Homo sapiens: one gene and its partner. The protein of the gene in region 1 purifies or fractionates together with the protein of each later gene. This does not show direct contact. Each region holds a gene or a part of one and is shown on either strand. Other genes may lie near its edges.

Region 1 (11,573 bases):
AGTCCGCCGTCCGAGTGCTCAGCGCTGGGGTGACTAGGAGATCTCCGATCGAACTCGGGAGGAGTTGGACCCATCTGCACCTCCGGGCGCGGGGCGGGGCCCGGGGAGTGACGGGGGCAGTCGAGATACGGAAACGCTGGCCCTCCAAGACAGGCCAGAGCGGCCCTATCTGGCCTGCGTGGCGCAGTACAGCGCTAGAGCGGCCGGCGGGAGGAGTAGAGTCGTCGGGGCCGGAGCCCGGCAGGAGCCGGGCTAGAGCGGCTGGCAGGAGGAGTGGAGCTGGGCGCAAAGGTGGACTCAGGGCGGCTAGAGCGACGCGGCGGCAGGGGTGGGGAGAGTGCGGAGCCCGAGCGCGGAGGCTTCGGTTCCGGTGGCGGCGATGGCTTCTCTTTCCACCTGGAGCAGGTGAGGGACGCGGTCCCCAGCGGGTGTCAGACCCTGACTCTGCACGTCCTCCCCGGCATCCCTGGCCGTGCACACTGCCACGTCCCCCGTAGGATTTAGGGCCCGCGTAAGACCCGCCACGTCCATGTAAGATTTGGGTCTCGTGTAGACCCGCCTCATTCCGTATAAAGTCTTACAGACCCTCCAGGTTCCTGCCAGCCCCCCATGGAGAACTGGCTTCTTATAGACGTGGGGTCCTCATAGACCAGTGGCATCCCCTAGAATCCGGGGCTCTATAGACCATGGGTCTCGGGACCCACCACGCACCCCTATGGAATTCTGAGTCCCTTTTAAGTCTCCAGAGGTTCCACAGACTGGCAGCTGTCCCTATAGAATCATGATCCTGTATGATCCCTGGATCCTTTAGACCCACTGTGTGTCAAATAGAATCTGGGGAGTTACACATTCCAACGACTCTTTTAGGTTCTTTAAGGCTCCAGAAGTTCTTGGAGACCCTGAGTCACCTGCTCAACACATTATAGACCCTGAGACCTCCATAGAACTCAACACCCATGTGGCCCCCCAACCCATGGACCTTCTAAACCAGCCCTAACCCCCCAGCGCCCCATGCACGCAGTGTTCCCTCTGCTGGACCCCCCAGGCCTTGTCAGTTGCCTATAGATCCATCTATTCTCTGACAGCTTCACCTATAATTCTCCAGCCTTTGTGGGACTCCCCCAAACCCCTCCTCCTAAACAGGCGACACTCCTCGCCTCCATCATCTCCAACCCCCAAGCCTCTGTGGAGCAGCCGTATCCAACTTGCACTCCTGCCTAGGCCATAGTGACCACATACCCGTGACTTTTCCAGGCATCCATAAGAAGACATGATGTGTCTCAGAGCTTTGGTTCAGATTTTAGTTTCTGAAGGGTAGGGTGGGGGCTCCCCATGCTCTGAAGCAATGCTCTCTGTTTTATTTTGTTTTATTTATTTATTTATTTATTTTTGAGACGAAGTCTCACTTCTGTTACCAGGCTGGAGTGCAGTGGCGCGATCTCAGCTCACTGCAACCTCCGCCTCCCGGATTCAAGCGATTCTCCTGCCTCAGCCTCCCGAGTAGCTGGGACTACAGGCTCGTGCCACCACGCCCAGCTAATTTTGGTATTTTTAGTAGAGACAGGGTTTCACTATGTTGGCCAGGATGGTGTCGATCTCTTGACTTCGTGATCCGCCCGCCTTGGTCTCCCAAAGTGCTGGGATTACAGGCGAGAGCCACCGTGCCTAGCCTATTTTATTTTAAGACAAGGTCTCACTCTGTCGCCCAGGCTGGAGGGCAGTGGCACAATTTTGGCTCACTGCAACCTCTGCCTCCTGGGCTCAGGCGATCCTCTCATCTTAGCCTCCCAAGTAGCTATGACTACAGGCATGAACCACCACACCTGGCTATCTTTTGTAGAGATGGGGGTTTCACCATGTTAGCCAGGCTGGTCTCGAACTCCTGAGCTCAAGTGATCCACCTGCCTTGGTCTCCCAAAGTGCTGGGATTACAGGTGTGAGCCACTGTGTCCACCAAATGCAGTTTATTTTAAATGCGTAAACTCTGTAGCCCAACTGCCCAGGTCTGAGTCCTGGTTCTGCCTCTTATGAGCTGTGCCTCAGTTTCCTTCTTTGTTAAATGGAGGTGAGAATAATAATGATCTCTTGGAGTCACCGAGAGGATTAAATGAGTTATTACCTGTCAACCAGCGATGCCATGCCTGGCACATACTAAGTGTCTCTTTTGTGTCAGCTGTCATTTCATTATTATTGTGATAAGGAATAAGGAGATAAGAACTTGGCAAGTGCACAGTTCCAGACCTGGCACCAAGCACTTGCAAAGATAATGAGTATCCCCTCCTTTGCCTTTTTAAAATTTCCCTGCCTCAGTTGAGCGTTTCTACCTCTGAGTGGGATGAGCATGCACCCTCCACGTCCGTGGTCATGTTTCATAGTGAGACAGGGTCTCACTGTGTTCCCCAGGCTGGTCTCAAACTCCTGAGCTCAAGCGATCTTCCCACCTTGGCCTCCCAAAGTGCTGGGGTTACAGGCATGAACCACCTCACCTGGCCAGTTTGCAAATTTATTAAAGTGAATGTTTAACAGTACTTGAATCTTGAATTGCCCAAGCTTAGATATTGGACAATACACTTTGTGGGAAATAATAAAAATGATGCCTTCCCCAGGTGGACCCACAGGGTGGCATTTGGACACTCCAGAAAGCATCATTGTTTAATCATCAAAATCCTGGTTACCATTTACTGGGGAGCTAGGGAGGAGGCCCATAAAGCAGGAGAAGGGCGGGTCTCTGCTGGCTTGGGTTATAAATAGCTTTGGGCTGTGGGGAGCCCCGCCGCTGGTCCACCCCACCCCTCTTTCCACAGCTCCTTCCCACCTGACACGGGCTCCGTGGCATTAGTCAGACTAATTAAGGACACAGAAGATGTCGGTGGAAAGACTCAGAGAGAAGTGGAGACTCAAGGAGAGACAAAGATGGGAGAGACAGCAAGAGATGGGGGAGAAAAAGGGATGGAGAGATGAGAGACAGCACATGAGACTGTGACTCAGAGAGGTGTGAGGATGGTGGCTGCAGAAACCAGATGTGGGAGGACAGAGGCACAGAGACAGGGACAGGACAGACGGAGCTACAGAAGCAGGAAGGGGGTGTCACCGCTGAGAGGGAGAGATGGAGGGAGGAGAGGCAGGGATGGTGGGGAAAATGAGACAGTTCTGGAGGAAGGGAAAGAGAAAAATCAGGAAACAGGGTGAAAAGAGACCAAGACATGAGACAGATTCAAGGGACAGACAGCCAAGGAGAGCTGGCTGCGGACAGACCAAGGCGCACGTAGGGTGGAGGGGACAGACGCACCTTGGAGATGGGCTGTCTGAGGCCCCATCACTTGGTTTCTGGGACTGGAAGCCTGGGAAGAGATGAGGTCCCTGGGGGAAAGAAGAACTTCTGGGTTTGGGGACTCCCAGTCCCTGAGGGAGGAGGGTTCTGAGTTTTGTTTTCTTATGTGGAGAGTTGGGGGTTGGGGGTTTGCCATTGTGACTTCCTGTCACAGGAAGTGGGGCTGGTGGGTTCCAAGGCAACATCCTGTCCCAGGCCTGTCACAGACCAGAGGAGACCCCTGCACCCCACTTCTCTCCCGCCTCTCCTCTAACCCTCCCATCCCCTCTTGCCTCTGGGCTGTGCCCTCAGGAATTAGCCCCCAGGCCCCTGGTCCCTCCAACCTGGGAGTCCAGGCCCCCAGCCCCCTCTTCCATTAGGGCATTAGGGACCCCAGATTGCAGGCTGTCAGACTCAGCCTTCCCATGGACCCAGGCTCCTGAGCCTCCAACGCCTGCCCCCGCAAGGCTCCCGTCCCTGGGCTCCCGCCCCCTGGCGGGTCTCTGAAGGGCTCTTTGTGGCCACACAGAGGCCCCATTGAGCTGCGGAGGCTGGGATGGGGGAGGCTGTTTACTCACCTTCACACCTGGGCCAGGAATCTGTGAGTAACCACCCTGGGCCGCCTCCTCCCACCCTCCTAACCACAGCCCCTCCTCTTCCTCCAGCCCTGCAGAGCCCAGGGAGATGGAAGACTTCGCCCGAGGGGCGGTGAGTGGACAGAGCAAGGGGTGAGGCGACTCTGGGGCTGTGGGTGGAGAGTCCTGTGGACTGAAGCTGCCCTCCCTTTCCACAGGCCTCCCCAGGCCCCTCCCGGCCTGGCCTGGTTCCCGTCAGCATCATCGGGGCTGAGGATGAGGATTTTGAGAACGAGCTGGAGACAGTGAGTGGGAGATAGGGTGGAAAAGCTCTGTCCCAGGCTCAGTGTCCCGCCCCAGGTCCCCTCCCACCTGCAGATGCTGTCTTCTTGGCCTTTTCCCACGGTCTGTCTCATCCTCTCATCTCCCTGGTACCTCCTTCCTCACCTCGCCGACCCCACACAGCAGCATAGACGCCCACCCTTCTTACTCTTAACCCCATTTCTTATCGTTGCTCTCTCCTCCCCCAGCATGGACCCCAATTTCTTCTCTCCTAATTTCTGTCCTCATCATCCACCATTATAATATTAAGTCTCATCCATTCTCCCTGAACACCTGCCCTTGCTGTCACCATCATTTTTTGGACACTGTCACCACTCCCCACTTCCCAGGAGCTAACCCTGGCTTGGATCCCTTGTGAAGTGCCAGGAATGGGTAGGGTCAACCCTAAGGCCCCTCCTCTTCTCCCCATTGTACTCACCCCTTCCTGCACCCCCAGAACTCAGAAGAGCAAAACAGCCAGTTCCAGAGCCTGGAGCAGGTGAAGCGGCGCCCAGCCCACCTCATGGCCCTCCTGCAGCACGTGGCCCTGCAGTTTGAGCCAGGACCCCTGGTGAGGGCAGGGCTGGGTGGGCACAGGGAGGGGTGGGGCTGGGACAGGCACAGCTTTTAGCGAATTAAACCAGCGAGCTAGTGCCTGGAGGGTCTGGAAAAGCAGATCTAGAACACAGAGAGCCAGATCTAGAAAGAGAGAATGCTTTAGACAAGAGCCAGAAAGCATGCCACGTGACCTCAACAGGCTTACAAGTGCCCAGGGTAGATCTCAGTGCGCAGCGGGCAGGGTACACACGTCAGGACCCCGCGGAGCCACAGAGAGTCCAGCAGCCTGGCAGAAACCACATCCCATCCCACTCTGTGCCTGTGGCAGCGCCCCCATCAGCCTGTGGCAGCACCTTTCCGTGAACTCTAGGGGACCAAATTCTTCTCTCCAAAGCCTTTTTGGCAGATGCCAGCACGCAGTCATTCACGGTTGATGGTTGGGAAAAAGAAGCTGTTAGCCATCCCAGGTCTAGGGAGCACAGCAGGCCCTGATCTGGAAACAAGAAAACCACCACACACAGCTCACAAGGCAGACCACACAATTGTGGATCCAGAAGCCTCCGGATGAGGCAGAAGATACCTGGGAGATGTGGATGGACAACCGTGCCATCCAGAAACACCCGCAGAGTCTAGAAAACCCAGCAGGTGATTTAGAAAGGGAGAGGCCACAGTGCTGGCTGGCAGGGGATCTGTAGACAAGGGTCTCATCCCAAGAAGACCCCGTCCAGCCCAGCACAGGATAGGAGGACAGCCTGGGGACAGCCAGGGCACTGCACCATGTGGACATGCATAGTGGACCCCTCCAGAAAACAAGGAAACCGATAGAGTGGGGAGAAGTGCCCGAGGCATGCAGAAAGAAGAACATGTCAGCTGCAAGACCAGAGGCTGGTCATCCGGACGCCAAACCATCAGATATGCAGAAAATTAGGAAATTGCAGTCTTTCCCCTGTCTACATTCTCTTTCCAGAAGAGTGGTTCCCCCGACAACCACATGCACGGAGACTCTGGCCCTCTGAGCAAGGGAGTCCCCTATTCAAGCCTTGGGGTTTCTAGAACACCAGATTGTGGACATCAGCCCAGGGATCGTGCTGACTACCATGTTCTTTTACAGATGTGGAAACCGAGGCCTAGAGAGGGTCAGGGACTTGCCTGAGGTGACCCCGGCGGCCTCTGGGCATTTTGAGGTTTATTCTCGCATAGCTCCCTCACCTCATCAGCTTGTGGGGAGCCGATCAGAGATAGCTGTGGTCCCCTGGGCAGCTTCCTGTTGGCCTGTCTTAGAATTTTGCTATATTTGGGGGGTGTGAAGAGTGGATATAGATGTGTTAAAACTGTTTAAAGTGGAGAAGGAGGACCGGGCCTGGTGGTTCATGACTGTAGTCCCAACGCTTTGGGAGGCTGAGGCAGGAGGATAGCTTGAGCCTGGGAGGTTGAGGCTGCAGTGATTGCACCACTGCACTCCAGCCTGGGCGACAAGAGTGAAACCCTGTCTTGAAAAAAAAAAAAAAGTGGGGCCGGGCATGGTGGCTCACACCTATAATCCCAGAACTTTGGAGGCTGAGGTGGGTAGATCACTTGAGATCAAGAGTTCGAGACCAGCGTGGCCAACATGGTAAAACCCCGTCTCTACTAAAAATATGAAAATTGGCCAGGCGCAGTGACTCACGCATATAATCCCAGCACTTTGGGAGGCTGAGGCAGGTGGATCACCCGACGTCAGGAGTTCAAGACCAGCCTGGCCAACATGGTGAAATCCCATCTCTACTAAAATAGAAAAATTAGCCAGGCACAGTGGTACACACCTGTAATTCCAGCTACTCGGGAGGCTGAGGCAGGAGACTCACTTGAACCTGGGAGGTGGTGGTTGCAATGAGCCGAGATTGCACCATTGCACTCCAGCCTAGGCGGAAAAAAAAAAAAAAAATTAGCCAGGCCTGGTGGTAGGCACCTGTAATCCAAGCTACTCCAGAGGCTGAGGCAGGAGAATCGCTTGAACCCAGGAGGAGGTTGCAGTGAGCCGAGATCACGCCACTGCACTCCAGCCTGGGTGACAGAGCGAGACTCCATCTCAAAAAAGAAAAAGGAGAAAAAGTCCCACTCCCATTGGAGTGAGTTCATTTCCCAGATGAGAGCCCCCAGGAGCCAGGACAGGTTGGAGTCCCCACTGTCACCCAGAACAGGGGCGGGCACTCAGGAAATGCTTGACGAATGACAGAGTGAGCCCCACTTGTCCACCTGTTCTTTCCAAGCCCTCAGTATGCACAAGGCACCACCATCTGGGACACAGATGGATCAACCTACAACACCCCTCAACACACACAAACCCTTAAGCTGCTCACAGTCTTTCCAGGCAGTGGAGTGTAGTAGAGACAGGCTGCCTGGATTCGAATCCTAACTTTGCCACTTAGTAGCTATGTGATTTTGGGTTTTATTTATTTATTTATTTATGAAACAGTCTCGCTCTGTGTCACCCAGGCTGGAGTGCAGTGGCACAATCTCCACTCACTGCAACCTCCATCTCCTGGGTTCAAGCAGTTCTCCCTGCCTCAGCCTCCCGAGTAGCTGGGATCACAGGTGCCCACCACCACACCCGACTAATTTTTTTATTTTTAGTAGAGACAGGGTTTCGCCATGTTGGCCTGGCCGGTCACAAATTCCTGACCTCATGTGATCCACCTGCCTTGGCCTCCCAAAGTGCTGGGATTACAGGTGTGAGCCACTGTGCCTAGCCTAGTTGTGCGACTAAGCTTGACTAAACTTCTTGAGCTCCGTTTTCTCATCTGTAAAATGGGGATAATGACGGTCCCTATGATTGAACACGTTAATGCATGTAGAGGGTGTAGAGCCGTGTCTGGTATACACTAAGCCGTCAGTATAGACAGTAGTAGTAGTTGTTGTCATTATTGCCGGGAGGAGACCATGATGAAGAACCACAAAGGACCATAGCACAGGATGGAAAATTAGAAAATGCTCATGGCAGCCCCAGGGAGCCTGCAGGGGAACCCAGGGCCTGGCTTTAGGGGTGGAGGTCAGGGAGTGCTTCCCAGAGGAAGTGGCAGTTGAGTCCCACAGCCATAGGATGGCCAGGAGGTGAGGAAGGCCCTTTTCAAAGGGAGAGTGTGGTTTGAGGCAGGGTGAGGGAGCGGAGAGTCATGCTGTGTGTCTCCCCCAGCTTTGCTGTCTGCATGCCGACATGCTGGGCTCACTGGGCCCCAAGGAGGCCAAGAAGGCCTTCCTGGACTTCTACCACAGCTTCCTGGAGAAGACAGCGGTGAGAGACCTTCAAGCTGCCCCAACCCTGCAATCCCTGTTTGGGCCTGCAGAGTCACCATGCGGTCCCCAGCCTCTGCCCTGAGGGCAGCTGCTGACCCAGGCCTTCCCCAGCACCCTCGCTTAGACCAGGGTTCCTGGCAGTCCTCCCGGCCTGCATCTCAGCACACCAAGTCCTCCTCTTCACCCCATTCTCTCTCTTGAGCAGGTTCTCCGGGTGCCGGTCCCTCCCAACGTCGCCTTTGAACTTGGTAAGGAGAAGGATGGGATGAGGGAGAGGTGTCTAGCGGGGACCACACCTCCCAGGAGGCCAAGGGGAGGGAGGCCGCACTCCCATGCTCTGCTCGGACAGCCGAGATTCATTCATTCCTTCTTGGCAGCGGCCTCAGGACGTGTGGCTGTTGGAGTCCAAGGGTGGGTGGGGACCGTGGTCCAAGCCACCAGGGAGCTGGACCCTAGCCCCCATGTGTGTCCCTGCAGACCGCACTAGGGCTGACCTCATCTCCGAGGATGTCCAGCGGCGGTTCGTGCAGGAGGTGGTGCAAAGCCAGCAGGTAGCCGTGGGCCGGCAGCTGGAGGACTTCCGTTCCAAGCGGCTCATGGGCATGACGCCCTGGGAGCAGGAGCTGGCCCAGCTGGAGGCTTGGGTTGGGCGGGACCGAGCCAGCTACGAGGCCCGGGAGCGGCACGTGGCGGAGCGGCTGCTCATGCACCTGGAGGAGATGCAGTGAGTAGGCCAGCCCTGGTGGGAGCGTCGCCCCTCCCCAGCACAAGGGCACCCGTGCTACCTCTGGCATGTTCCATCCCGTTTGCAGGTTCCCTCTTCAGGGTCAGAGTTCATTTCTTGGCACTGGGGGTCTTCCTCTACCCTGGTGTTTTAACTCACCTTGAATCCGAGTCTTCCCTTTCCAGCTTTGGGGTTCCCTTGTCATTTCTGGGTCTTGTCCATGATCTGGCACTTGGATCCCATCCTCCTGGATGAGAGACCTCCCTCCCTCTTATGACAGTCCTTCCCAATCCCTTCCACAGTGTCCCCTCTCTGTCTCTCTTCCCCCTGCCTATCCCAGGACAGCAACCCTGAGATGTATCCTGGGTGGATGGGGACCCCAGGCCTAGCAAATATGTCACAAACATCTCTCTTCCTCCTACAGACATACCATCTCTACCGACGAAGAAAAGAGGTGAGGGGGGCAGGGGAGGCGTGCGGCCTCCTGGGTTTGAGGGAGGAGGGGGCTGAGGGCCTGGACTCCTGGGTCTGAGGGAGGAGGAGGCTGGGGGGCCTGGACGCCTGGGTCTGAGGGAGGAGGGGGCTGGGGGGCCTAGACGCCTGGGTCTGAGGGAGGAGGGGGCTGGGGGGCCTGGACGCCTGGGTCTGAGGGAGGAGGGGGCTGGGGGGCCTGGACGCCTGGGTCTGAGGGAGGAGGGGGCTGGGGTCCTGGACGCCTGGGTCTGAGGGAGGAGGGGGCTGGGGGCCTGGACGCCTGGGTCTGAGGGAGGAGGGGGCTGGGGGCCTGGACTCCTGGGTCTGAGGGAGGAGGAGGCTGGGGGCCTGGACTCCTGGGTCTGAGGGAGGAAGGGGCTGGGGGGCCTGGACGTCTGGGTCTGAGGGAGGAGGGGGCTGGGGGGCCTGGACGCCTGGGTCTGAGGGAGGAGGGGGCTGGGGGGTCTGGACTCCTGGGTCTGAGGGAGGAGGGGGCTGGGGGCCTGGACTCCTGGGTCTGAGGGAGGAAGGGGCTGGGGGCCTGGACTCCTGGGTCTGAGGGAGGAGGGGGCTGGGGGCCTGGACTCCTGGGTCTGAGGGAGGAGGGGGCTGGGGGCCTGGACTCCTGGGTCTGAGGGAGGAGGAGCCTGGGGCCTGGACACTTGGGTCCTGGGCATTGGGTAACAGCCCTTGCCCCTGTCCTTTTGAACCCTCTCATCTCTCCTCAGAGTCTCACAGGAAGTAGTTGTGGGGTCAGGATGGGAAGGCCGGGCCTCTGCCTCTAGGGGGAGAGAGAGAGAGTGTGTGTGTGAGTGTGTGTGTGTGTGTGTGTGTGTGTGTGTGTCTTTGTGTGTGTTGAGCCCTCACTGTCCCTTCCCTACAGTGCTGCCGTGGTCAACGCCATTGGCCTGTACATGCGCCACCTTGGGGTGCGGACCAAGAGTGGAGACAAGAAGTCGGGGAGGAACTTCTTCCGGAAAAAGGTGCTTCCCTCAGTGCCCCGTCCTGACCCTTTCCTCTCCAGAGACGCCCTGGGAGCCTCATGACTCTGGATACCTAGCGTCAAATTCTGCTTTGTTGTTGTCTCAGAGATGCTTAGCCTGGTCTTCCTCCCCGCCCTCTCACAGGTGATGGGGAACCGGCGGTCGGACGAGCCTGCCAAGACCAAGAAGGGGCTGAGCAGCATCCTGGATGCCGCCCGCTGGAACCGGGGAGAGCCCCAGGGTAAGGCGGCTCTGGCCTCTGCCCTCCCCTGTCTTCCCCAGCTGCTCCCACTCACTGTCTCATTCTCTCTCGTTTCAGTTCCAGATTTTCGACACCTCAAAGCAGAGGTTGATGGTAATGTACCTGTAGCCATAGCATCCATACTGGGGGCCTGTGTGGGAGAGGCTAGGACCTGGACGCCTGGGTCTGAGGGAGGAGGGGCTGGGACCTGGACGCCTGGTTCTGAGGGAGGAGGGGATGGGGGCCTGGACACCTGGGTCTGAGGGAGGAGGGGCTGGGGGAGCTCCTGGGTCTGAGGGAGGAAGGGCTGGGCCTGGACCCCTGGGTCTGAGGGAGGAGGGACTGGGCCTGGACCCCTGGCTCTGAGGGAGGAGGGGCTGGGGGAGCTCCTGGGTCTGAGGGAGGGAGGCCTGGGGCCTGGACCCCTGGGTCCGAGGTAGGAGGGATTGGGCCTGGACCCCTGGGTCTGAGGGAGGAGCGGCTCAGACTCGGACTCTTAGGTCTGAGGAGGAAGGGCTGGGCCTAGACCCCTGGGTCTGAGGGAGGAGGGGCTGGGGGAGTTCCTGGGTCTGAGGGAGGAAGGCCTGGGGCCTGGACCTCTGGGTCTGAGGGAGGAGGGGCTGGGGGCCTGGACTCCTGTGTCTGAGGGAGGAGGGGTTGAGGGCTCCTGGGTCTGAGGGAGGAAGGGGCTCCTTGTCATGGTGGGGAAGGGCCTGAGCACAGCCTCTTGCATCCCCTGGCGGTTGTGGATTTGAGTTACTGTTCTCTTATCTCCCTCTTTCTCCCTCACTGTCTCCCCAGCCGAGAAGCCAGGTGCTACAGACCGGAAGGGAGGCGTGGGGATGCCCTCTCGGGACCGGAATATCGGGGCTCCTGGGCAGGACACCCCTGGAGTCTCTCTGCACCCTCTGTCCCTGGACAGCCCAGACCGGGAACCAGGTGAGAGTTTCCTGGGCCAGGGCTCCATGAGGCCCGGCGATCCAGGGTGGGGGTGCTGCCTGCCCCCTTGGCACCCCCAGATAGAAGCCATTCCCCAGCAACACCTCCCCTTTGCTCTCAGCATCCACTTCTCCCTGCTCCTGGTCACCACTGTCATTCATAACTTTCCCCTTCC
Region 2 (11,573 bases), about 39 Mb from region 1:
GAGAGAGGATGGCAGCCTGGGGACACTGGGACACCCTGTGTTGCCCATCTCACAGACACAGCAAAGGGAGCCCCCTGTCGGGGAGGGTCCGGTAACCAGGAGGAAGCCAGGCGACCCTGGGTCCCAGCCATCCCAGGAGCCTCCTCCTCTGCTGCGGCCCCCTCTGGAATGATCGTCTCTCCACGAGCTCCAGCTCCCAGAACAGCGGCGCCCAGTGCTGGAGACCAAAGGCCCTGGGCCTGGACCAGCACAGCAGCTGGATGGAGCCTGTCCCCTTCCCCGGAGGACCAGCCACACCTGGACATGCAGCCCCTTGGCCGCTGTCATAGCGACACGATGCCTGGCCATTAGATGCATTTTTCACACTCTCGGTTTCAGAACCAGAAAACTGGTGGGATGTTTAATCAAGGATCTCTCCCGCTGGGCACCATGGACACTGGGCTGATCACTCTCGGACAACTGGTGATGACAGCAACCCGGGGCCCTCCCAGACCCCACTGGGCCTGAGAGCCCCCTGCCCCCACCAGCCTTTGCAACCTGGAGTCCCCTCCCAGACCCCTCTGGGCCCCTGAGACTCCCCCCAGGCCTCTGCAACCTGGAGCCCCCGCTCCCCCAGACCCCGCTGAGCCCAAGATCCCCCACTTCTGCCAACCGGGGGCCAGCCCGTGCCCCTCTGTGCCCCTACCTCACACGCAGGCACATGGCCCAGGCTCAGGCTGGGCTGTTCCCTGGGATGGAGGGAGGAGCATCTGGCCTTCCCATGCTGTGTCCCCCCGACAGGCCAGCTGCCAATGTGGTGGCTCGGAGGCTCCAGGACAGAAGCTCCCACCCCTCAATCACAGAGATCTGCAGTCAGAGTCCCCAGCTCCCCACCCCACCAGCGGCCCCCACCTTTCACCCCTCGATCACAGGGATCTGTAGTCAGAGTCCCCAACTCCCCACCCCACCAGCGGCCCCCACCTTTCACCCCTCGATCACAGGGATCTGCAGTCAGAGTCCCCAGCTCCCTACCCCACCAGCGGCCCCCACCTTTCACCCCTCGATCACAGGGATCTGCAGTCAGAGTCCCCAGCTCCCCACCCCACCAGCGGCCCCCACGTTTCACCCCTCGATCACAGGGATCTGCAGTCAGAGTCCCCAGCTCCCCACCCCACCAGCGGCCCCCACCTTTCACCCCTCGATCACAGCGATCTGTAGTCAGAGTCCCCAACTCCCCACCCCACCAGCCGCCCCCACCTTTCACCCCTCGATCACAGGGATCTGTAGTCAGTCCCCAGCTGCCCCCCCCAACCAGCCGCCCCCACCTTTCACCCGTCGATCACAGGGATCTGTAGTCAGAGTCCCCAACTCCCCACCCCACCAGCTGCCCCCACCTTTCACCCCTCAATCACAGGGATCTGTAGTCAGAGTCCCCAACTCCCCACCCCACCAGCCGCCCCCACCTTTCACCCCTCGATCACAGGGATCTGTAGTCAGTCCCCAGCTGCCCCCCCCACCAGTCACCCCCACCTTTCACCCCTCGATCACAGGGATCTGTAGTCAGAGTCTCCAGCTCCCCACCCCACCAGCGGCCCCCACCTTTCCCGACGGAGACCCAGCCCAGCCAGCAAGGACATGGGGAGGGGCTGGAGAGCCAGGGGTCACCAGGGCAGGCAGAAGCGACTGGAACACCCTCTGGGCCGCCCAGCTAAAGAAAGCCCCTCCCTAAGCCCCGCGCAAAGCCCCCAAACCCGCCCCTCTCGAGGGCCTCCAGGTGAACTCGAGGCACATGCGGTGCCAGGGAAGGCGACCTCTTCACTTCCTACTAATCCTGCTGCAACCACAGCCGCCACCTGCCCGGCCTCTGCACGCGCCAGCTGGGGGCACAGCTCAGGCTTCTAGTGGCCTTCCTGCCTCCCCTCCTCCCACAGGGCCATGCACTCAGTGAGTTTAAAAATATGTGGAAGCAAACCGCAGTGAGATGCCACTTCGCACCAGCCAGGGCGTCCGTCAAGAAGACAGACAGTCGCAGGTGCGGGCGAGTACGCAGAGAAATCGGAACCTCACAGGCAGCGGCAGGAACCTGAGCTGAGACAGCTCTACAGAAAACAGTCCAGGGGCTCCCCCAAGAGTCACAGAGCCACCCTGTGACCCGGTAACTCCACTCCTGGGTGTGGACCCAGAAGACATGAAATTCACATCCATGCATGTTTGAAAACTACACATGGTGCCGGGCGCAGTGGCTCACACCTGTAATCCCAGCACTTTGGGAAGCCGAGGCGGGCGGATCACAAGGTCAGGAGATCGAGACCATCCTGGCTAACACAGTGAAACCCCGTCTCTACTAAAAAAACATACAAAAAATTAGCCAGGCGTGGTGGTGGGCGCCTGTGGTCCCAGCTACTTGGGAGGCTGAGGCAGGAGAATGGCATGAACCCGGGAGGTGGAACTTGCAGTGAGCCGAGATCGCACCACTGCCCTCCAGCCTGGGAGACAGAGCGAGACTCAGTTTCAAAATAAATAAATAAATAAATAAAATGAAAAATAAAAATAAATAAAAAAATAAAAGCAATGCGGTCCCTCCACCATCCACACACAGGAACATGACCCAGCTGTGTAACGGAGCAAGGTTCTGACACCACAGTGTGGATGCCCCTTGAGGATGTCACACTCATGAGACGCCAGACACAAAACGCCACACAGTGTGTAATCCCATTTCCATGAAATGTCCAGGTCAGGCCAGTGCACAGACACAGGCAGCGGGTGTGTGGGCAGCGGGGCTGGAGAAGGGGACGGGGAGTGACCGCTGAGGGGGACAGGCTTCTTTTAGTGGGGATGAACGTTCTAAAATTGGACACATTGGTGGTGGCACAGCTGTGGAGATATGAAAACGCGAAACCTACGGGTGAGCTGGGTGAACCTTATGAGGCGGGAATTAACTGCTCCGGCTCTGGCGCTGAGGAAAAGGAGGACCGGAGGATGGTAGGCGGAACCAGGCCCAGCACCACCCGCTAGAACGCCGTGATGTTCCCACAGCCCTACAGGGCCAAGGGTGTCTATGCAAGGTGGGTACAGGGTCGGCCTGCATCTGGAGGGCCACACCCCCATGTTACAGGCGAGGCTCCTGTGCAGAGGGCTGGGGGCCTGCCAGGACGCACCCCTTGGCAGTGACCGGGCCTCTTCTGAGGTGGGACCCTCAGCCTCAAACCAACGCATGCTGGGCCATCTGGACAAGTCAGAGTCTCAGGCTGCCCCAGCACCGCAGCTCCAAGTCCCGTCAGCCTACAGTGGGGCGGGATAAGGGTTCCCAACCTGATTTTATGTATGGGAAAACTGAGGCACGGGTCAGTAAAAAGCCGCCTCCTGACCACCGCTGGGTCCTAGACATATCAGGTCTGCGGGGACCAATTGTAGGACGGGGACCCACAGAGGCAGCAGTGCAAAGCGAGCTCCTCCCGCGGCACCCCGGCCACCCCCAAGCCCTCCCTCCCATGCAGGCGATCATCTGGGCCGTGCCCTCCACATCTGTGTCCTGGGAACAGACTTCTAGAAAAACCCAAATCAGGAAAAAGCGGCCAGCTCCACGCTGCAAACAGCTGGGCACCAGGTGCAGGCATGGTGGTGTCTGCCTCTCCCTCAAAGCTCCCAAATACCCCTAACCTCAAGGGAGGGGCTGACGGGACACCCTCAGGATGGGGGTCACACACGAGCTCTCCTGTCCCCACAGAGAGAGAGCTGACTGCGGCTCACGAGGCAGAGGGGCCAGGATGAACAAAACAGCAGAGTTTCCAACAAAGACAAGATCAGCGCCGGGACACACAGGAGCCCGTTCAAGGTGAGAAAAAACAGCAACTCTGCAATGGCAGCCACACGCACAGAGGCATGCTGAGCACCCCCAGACCATGTGCACGGCGGTCCTGTAAGACTCTAATGCAAACCTGGCATGGGGGCTCACCCCTGTCATCCCAGCACTTTGGGAGGCTGAGGTGGGCGGATTACGAGGTTAGGAGATCAAGACCATCCTTGTTAACACGGTGAAACCCTGTCTCTACTAAAAATACAAAAAAATTAGCCGGGCATGGTGGCGTGCACCTGTAATACCAGCTACTCAGGAGGCTGAGGCAGGAAAATTGCTTGAACCCAGGAGGCAGGGGTTGCTGTGAGCCAAGATTGGGCCATTGCACTCCAGCCTGGCGACAGCCAGACTCCACTTCAAAAAATAAAAAGAAAAAGAATCTAATACCATATTCTTACTGCACCTTTCTTGTGTTTATTTACTTATTTTGAGACAGAGCCACACCCAGCCTGGAGAGCAATGCCGCAATCACAGCTCACTGCAGCCTCAAACTCTGGGCTCAAGCAATCCTCCTGTCTCAGCTGCCCCAATAGCTGGGACTATAGGCACACATACTACTATGCCTGCCTAATTAGTTTCTAACTTTTTTTTTAAGAGATGGGGTCTTGCTATGTTGCCCAGGCTGGTCTCAAACTCCTGGACTCAAGCAATCTGCCTGCCCCAGCCTCCCAAAGTACTGGGATTATAGGCGGGAGCCACCGCACCCAGCCCTTTCTCGTGTTTAAATGCTCACATACTTACCATTGTGTAACCGGTGCCCACAGCATTCCACAGAGGAGCGGGCGGTGTGGGTCTGTGGCCTAGGAGGCCACGCCCAAGCCTGGGTGTGTGGTGGCTTCCACCATCCGGGAGTGTGGGAGTGCACTCTACCATGCCCACACAAGGGGCACGTCTCCTAACGACACGCTTTCCACAAGGTATCCCTGTCACTAAACGACACCTGACTTGAATTAATAGTTTGTTCATTGTAGATTTTTTGAATTAATTGATTTTTAAAAGATAATCCATTAGGGCCCGGTGCGCTGGTGCATGCCTGAAATCCCAGCACTTTGGGAGGCTGAGGCGGGCGAATTACTTGAGGTCAGCAGTTCGAGACCAGCCTGGCCAACATGGTGAAACCCTGTCTCTATTAAAACACAAATTAGCTGGGTGTGGTGGTAGGCGCCTGTAATCCCAGCTACTCGGGAGGCTGAGACAGGAGAATCACTTGAACCCGGGAGGCAGAGGTTGCAGTGAGCTGAGATCACGCCACTACGCTGCAGCCTGGGTGGTACAGAGAGACCCTGTCTCAAAAAAAATATACATATGTCTGGGCGCCGTGGCTCACGCCTGTCATCCCAGCACTTCGGGAGGCCAAGGCAGTTGGATCACCTGAGGTCAGGAGTTCGAGACCAGCCTGACCAACATGGAGAAACCCTGTCTCTACTAAAAATACAGAATTAGCCGGGCATGGTGGTGTATGCCTGTAATCCCAGCTACCCAGGAGGCTGAGGCAGGAGAATCGCTTGAACCAGGGAGGCGGAGGTTGTGGTGAGCCAAGATCACGCCACTGCACTCCAGCCTGGGCAACAGAGTGAAACTCCGTCTCAAAAAAAAGAAAATAAAATACATATACATATACATATATATATACACATATATATATATATTCCATTAAAACATTACTCATCCCATCGCCCCAGCGTGACGATGAGCAAAACAACACACAAACCCCCATTGAGGAACATCCTACTGCACACCTGCCCAGCCCGCTCAGGACCAACCAGAACCTCTAACCAGGAACGTGGGGGAAACTATCAGCCTGGAGGAGCCTGGGAGACAGTGACGTAGTCACTAAATGTCACGTGAGATAGTGGATGGGGTCTTGGGGCAGGAAAGGACATCGGGGAAACTGAGGAAGTCTGAATACATGATGGATGTTGCTGGGAGCAGTGGCTCACAGCTGCAGTCCTACAACTTTGGGAGGCTGAGGCAGGAGGATCAGCCTGCCTCAGCCTTCCAAAGTGCTGGGATTACAGGCATGAGCCACCGCACCTGGCATAAGATGATGGGAGGCTGAGGCGGGCAGATCACCTGAGGTCAGGAATTTAAGACCAGTCTGGTCAACATGGTGAAACCCCATCTCTACTAAAAACACAAAAATTGCACCATTGCATTCCAGCCTGGGCGAGCACAGGGCAAGACTCTGTTGCCCAGGCTGGAGTGCAGTGGCATGATCTGAGCTCACAGCAACCTCTGCTTCCCGGGTTCAAGCGATTCTCCTGCCTCCCAAGTAACTGGGACTATAGCCGTGCACCACCACGCCCAGCTAATTTTTGTATTTTTAGTAGAGACGGGGCTTCACCATGTTGGCCAGGCTGGTTTCAATCTCCTGACCTCGTGATCCGCCCACCTCGGCCTCCCAAAGTGCTGGGATTATAGGTGTGAGCCACTGCGCCCAGACGGTTTTTACATTTTTAAATGGCTAGGGGTAGCCAGGAGAGGTGGCTCATGCCTATAATCCCAGCACTTTGGGAGGCAGAGGCTGGCAGATCCCCTGAGGTCAGGAGTTCGAGACCAGCCTGACCAGCATGGTGAAACCCCATCTCTGCTAAAAATACAAAAATTAGCTGGGCGTGGCAGTGCAAACCTGTGATCCCAGCTACTGGGGAGGCTGAGGCACAAGAATCGCTTCATCGCCTGAATCCGGGAGGCAGAGGTTGAAGTGAGCGGAGATTGTGCCACTGCATTCCAGCCTGGAAAACGAGACTGTCTCAAAAACAAAAACGATAAAGGCCAGGGGGGAAGATGAAGAGACTTTGTGACACAGGCAGATTCTATGCACTTCACAGTTCCATGTGTATAAATAAAGTTTTATTGACACATAGCAGCACCCACTTATTCACCTATGGGCTAAGGCAGCTTTCATCCTATGGCAGAGCTGAGTGGTTCAGATGCAGACAGTCTGGCCTTTTTTAGAAAAAGTCTGCTGACCATGCCTGGTCTGCCGTGCTGTGATGATGAGGAAAGTTCTAGAGGCTGGGGCACCTCACAAAGACCCTTTGAGCCTGCGGAACGGGTGTGCCGGGGCAGGACGGCCTCCTTGTGCTTGTGAGGCGCTGCAAAGGGCTGGGGACAGGCTGGGCCTTTTCTTTCATCTTTCACGGCATCTAGCAAGTGCTAGGCTTGAGGGAAGTCAACAAGTGTGTCCACACATGTGGGCCTGGCAGGGCTCAGATAGCCTGAGATGGCCTTTGCCTGGGACCCCTCGGACACACAGAGCAGCATAACTCGGCTGGAGGAGGCCACGGTGGGACAAAATGGCCCGGCTAAGAACTACAGCCCTGTGCAGAAAATGCAAACACCGGCTTGGGGTCACTTCCAAAGTGGACTCCATCCTCCACGCTCGCCTGGGCCGCCTCCGAGACCCCCTCCAGCAGCCCTGAGCAGCCAGGGGACACCGGGGCAGGGGAAGACAGAAGATGCCGAAGCCAGGTCTCCTCCCTCGGGAACGTAAGGCCTGGCAGGGAAGTACCTGGAGTACCTGCCTCTCCCGCGCCTGGACACGGGCCACAGCGCGGCCTCCCTGCACCTGCCCCCGCCCCCAGCACTCAGTGATCCTCCTTCAACAAATACCCATCTGGCCAGCCCCCACCCCACCCTTTCCCAAGCCCTCCAACGATGCTTGTATATGGCGATTCATCCACACCGCCAAAAGACACCCCCTAGTGTCACATGGGAATGTGGAACCCATGCTTGGCCTGGTTTTGTACGAGTGTGCAAGGGTGAACTCCTGCGGGCAGGAAAGAAGTGAGCAAGTTAGCCGGGCATGGTGGTGGGCGCCTGTAATCCCAGCTACTCAGAAGGCTGAGGCACGAGAAGCCCTTGAACCCAGGAGGTAGAGGTTGCAGTGAGCCAAGATCACGCCACTGCACACCAGCCTGGGCGACAGAGAGAGACTCTGTCTAGAAAAAAAAAAAGGCCAGGCATACTGGCTCACACCTGCAATCCCAGCATTTTGGAAAGCTGAGGCGGGCAGATCACAAGGTCAAGAGATAGAGACCATCCTGGCCAACATGGTGAAATCCCATCTCTACTAAAAATACAAAAATTAGCCGGGTGTGGTGGTACACGCCTGTAATCCCAGCTACTTAGGAGGGTGAGGCAGGAGAATTGCTTGAACCTGGGAGGCAGAGGTTGCAGTCAGCCGAGATCACACCACTGCACTCCAGCCTGGGCGACAGAGTGAGACTCTATCTCAAAAAAGAAGTGAGAAAGGCGTGTGTGAGGACCTCGGGGGCCGCCACACACCAGGATGCTGTGAGTCGTGTTATGAGCCTGAAAAAATCTGAACTGAGTCCCTCACGCCTCCCAGCAGGCTCCTCGGCCTGGCCATTCTCATGGGGGCCGTGTTACCCTCATGGAGGCTGCGTCATCCTCGTGGGGGATGGGTCATCCTCATGGGGGCTGCGTCATCCTCATGGGGGCTGGGTCATCCTAATGGGGGATGGGTCATCCTAATGGGGGCTGGGTCATCCTAATGGGGGCTGGGTCATCCTCGTGGGGGCTGGGTCATCCTCGTGGGGGCTGGGTCATCCTCATGGGGCTGGGTCATCCTCGTGAGGGCTGCGTCATCCTCGTGGGGGCCAGGTGATTCTCTTCTCGGGGCGCTGAGCAGTACCCAGCCTCCACCCACGCTGTGCCGATGCCGTCTCCCTCCCAATGTGACAACCAAGGGCATGCCCAGCCTTGGCCAAGAGTCCCCTGGGGGCAGAAGCTGGCCAGGTGAGAGAGGCCCTGCTGTCCAGGTGACCTGCATGCTCTTAGGCCTGACACCCCAGGTCCCTCCTCGTTCAGAGCTCCCTCCCCTGCCCCCATCCTGCCAGCCTGAGCCTGAGGCTGCTCTCTGAACCCCACGTGGCCCACCTGTGTCTAGAAGGCCCCCAGCTATTCCAGGTCACTCCCTCCATGTGGGCCCACATGACGTCCCCCCACCAGCGGCCCCCACCCCAGCAGGCTTCCAACTCTGCTCCCCACTAGCCGGGTTCCTGGCCCACTAGTCGCAGGCGGAACTCCCAGCTGTCCCCTGCCACATGCCCTGCAGACACGGCTGGGTGACAGGGCTCACGGAGGGGCCAGTGTGTCACCTGCTAAATGGCTGCCTTCACTGGAGTCAGACCCGCATTTCACCCAGCCTGAGTGAACTGAGTTGTAAAGGATGCTGCTGCGGCCCCGAGAGGTGGCTGGGCCAGGCTCCCTCTAGGGCACAGGGCCGGTCCAATGGGGCGTCCAGTGGGGCTGGGGCTGGTACCTCCCCAGCACTCACCAGGCCCTGCACCCTCAAAGCTCCCTGCAGCTGTTCGTCCCATTGGCAGGTGGGATAACAGAGGCCCAAAGACAAGAAACCAGCTCTAACCCTGCACGCCACGGGTCCAGCAGGCGGCCTCTAAGTTGGGACAACTCCGCACTGGACAGATGGCAAGATGGAGGCTCCAAGAGACACAGGGGCCTGCCCAAAGCCACACTAATTGAAAAGCAGGGGACTGGCCAGGCACGGCGGCTCACACCTGTAATCCCAGTACTTTGGGAGGCCGAGGCAGGCAGATCACCTGAGGCCAGGAGTTTGAGACCAGCCTGACCAACAAGGCCAAACTCTGTCTCTACTAAAAATACAAAAATGAGCCGGGCATGGTGGTGAACACCTGTAATCCCAGCTACTCGGGAGACGGGGGCAGGAGAATCACTTGAACCCGGGAGGCAGAGGGTGCGGGGAGCTAAGATCGCGCCACTGCACTCCAGCCTGGACGACGGAGCGAGACTCTATCTCAAAAAAAAAAAAAAAAAAAAAGAAAGAAAAGCAGGGGATCCCACCAAGCACTGATCTTCCTTCTACCTCCCTGAAGGCACCAGCTACATTCTTTCAGGTTCCCTGTCCCCAGGGCACTGTGAAAACAACCCACAGGGAGCTACTGAACAAAAGTTAACCTGCTGTGGCCCCACACACAAGTAAGAGGTGGGTATTATAATTACACCCATTCCAAAGGCGAGGGCACTGAGACCCAGAGAGGGTAAGCGACTAGCCCAAGGTCACACAGAGGGTAAGTGGCTCCCAGAAATGACCCGACCCCCTCAACAAGCAGCTCTTCTCCCAGAAGCCCACCACGTCCTCTGATCTCCAGATGGGCGAGTGGGGACTGGGCGCTGCAAATCCCGACTTCGGCACCCAGCTCTCCCAACAGGACACTGGGGCCTAGGGACCCCAGGACCCCAACCCATGGCAGGAATCAAGTGGGTGCTCCTGCCTGCCCCCCGTTCTGGAGTCCTGTCCTTGGATTGGGCATGGCCAGTGGGAGGGACAAAGAGCCTCCCCAGGGTTAGGTTGGGGGGCAGGACAGATTGCACCCAGACCCCAAGACACCCCGACCTCATGTCCCCTTGGTGGGCAGACTTTCCCGCCTCTTCTCCTTCAGTCTGCACTGAAGCCTCGGGGCCCATTCAGAACCTCAACACTTTCCACCGGACCCAAGATCCCAACTCTCACCCTTCCTTCATATTCTCTTGGGGGCAGAACCTGCCAGACCACCGCTGACACCAGGGCACAAATAAGGGACTCCCAAATTTCCCGTGGGACCCCAAGGTATCAGAACCTCTCCCTCGGCCCCCTACCCACCCTGGGCCTGGTGAGAGATGAGGGGCCTAATTCCCACCCCAGTCACCAATCTCTTCTGGATTCATCAGGGAACTCGCTAAAGCTCCAGGGAGAACTGAGACCACGTGACTCACCCCAGAGACTCCAGGGAGACCCCCCACACACCCCATCTTGGGCCTCCTCAGAGGGCCTGGGCCCCCCAGTCTCCTTGGAGCCCAGAGACCACCCCCATTCCACCCCAGATACCCCAATACCCAGCTTCATCCCCAGAGACTCCCACTCACACCCCCTCAGTTGGGGGGGGTCCGCCAAGTCTCCTTGGAATCCTCTGAGGGACGAGGCATATGGGGGGCTGCAGCCCAATACTCAGGGAGCCCCCAAATCCCCAGGACCTCTCTTTGGTGGGGAGCCCTAGTCTGTAACCCCCATGGCCCCAAAATGCACCTCTCACGGAAGGGTCCCCAGAGCTAGCTGGAGGCCCCTCTGCAGCCCTCACTCAGGACACGGAAGATCTCCTGGGACCCCCTCCATAGGTGGGGCATTCCTGGTCTGCACTTTTCACTCAGTGCCCTAGAAACCCCCTGGAGGTCCCCAAGAGAATGGGCCACTCCGGTCTGCACCCCTCCCAAGGGGTCCCCCAAGATCTCGGAAACTGCGGTGGGCAGGGCCTGCCCAGGTGGCACCCCTCACTCAGGGTCTCCCCCTGGAGATCCCCGAGGCCAGGCTGACCCCACCCCTGCTCAGGGTCCCCCGTGATCGCGTACTCCGCGGTGGGCTGGGCCTGGCCGAGCTGCACCCCTCACTCAGGGACCCCTTGAAACCCCCTGGAGACCCCCAAGCCGGGACCCTTCCCGGTCTGCACCCCTGCCCAGGGTCCCCGCGATCGCGCACCCCGCGGTGGCCAGGACCTGCACCCTTCATCCAGGAGCCCCCCGCAAACCCCCTGGAGACCCCAAGCCGGGAGTCGTTCAGAGTCCCCCGCGATCGCGCGCCCCGTGGTGGGCGGGGCCTGGCCGAGTAGCACCTTTCACTCAGGGACTCTCCGAAACGCGGCGGAGATCCCCGAGGCCGGACTGTCCCCGTCTGCATCCCAGCTCAGGGTTCCCCGCG

What was found.
Region 2: the proteins of ARHGEF1 (region 1) and LMNB2 purify together in Homo sapiens (affinity purification with mass spectrometry; 2 studies listed by BioGRID, with this or other methods). This does not show direct contact.

The regions. Positions count from the first base shown.
Region 1 is NC_000019.10:41,884,089-41,895,661, forward strand, and holds part of ARHGEF1 (rho guanine nucleotide exchange factor 1), read left to right. Parts: exon of another isoform or gene 1-379; coding exon of another isoform or gene 380-405; intron 406-3,975; coding exon of another isoform or gene 3,976-3,994; coding exon 3,995-4,018; intron 4,019-4,103; coding exon 4,104-4,190; intron 4,191-4,663; coding exon 4,664-4,777; intron 4,778-7,936; coding exon 7,937-8,035; intron 8,036-8,242; coding exon 8,243-8,285; intron 8,286-8,514; coding exon 8,515-8,761; intron 8,762-9,185; coding exon 9,186-9,215; intron 9,216-10,118; coding exon 10,119-10,218; intron 10,219-10,362; coding exon 10,363-10,459; intron 10,460-10,537; coding exon 10,538-10,573; intron 10,574-11,260; coding exon 11,261-11,398; intron 11,399-11,573. UniProt on the Homo sapiens protein: Seems to play a role in the regulation of RhoA GTPase by guanine nucleotide-binding alpha-12 (GNA12) and alpha-13 (GNA13) subunits. Acts as a GTPase-activating protein (GAP) for GNA12 and GNA13, and as guanine nucleotide exchange factor (GEF) for RhoA GTPase.
Region 2 is NC_000019.10:2,444,652-2,456,224, forward strand, and holds part of LMNB2 (lamin-B2), read right to left. Parts: intron 1-11,573. UniProt on the Homo sapiens protein: Lamins are intermediate filament proteins that assemble into a filamentous meshwork, and which constitute the major components of the nuclear lamina, a fibrous layer on the nucleoplasmic side of the inner nuclear membrane.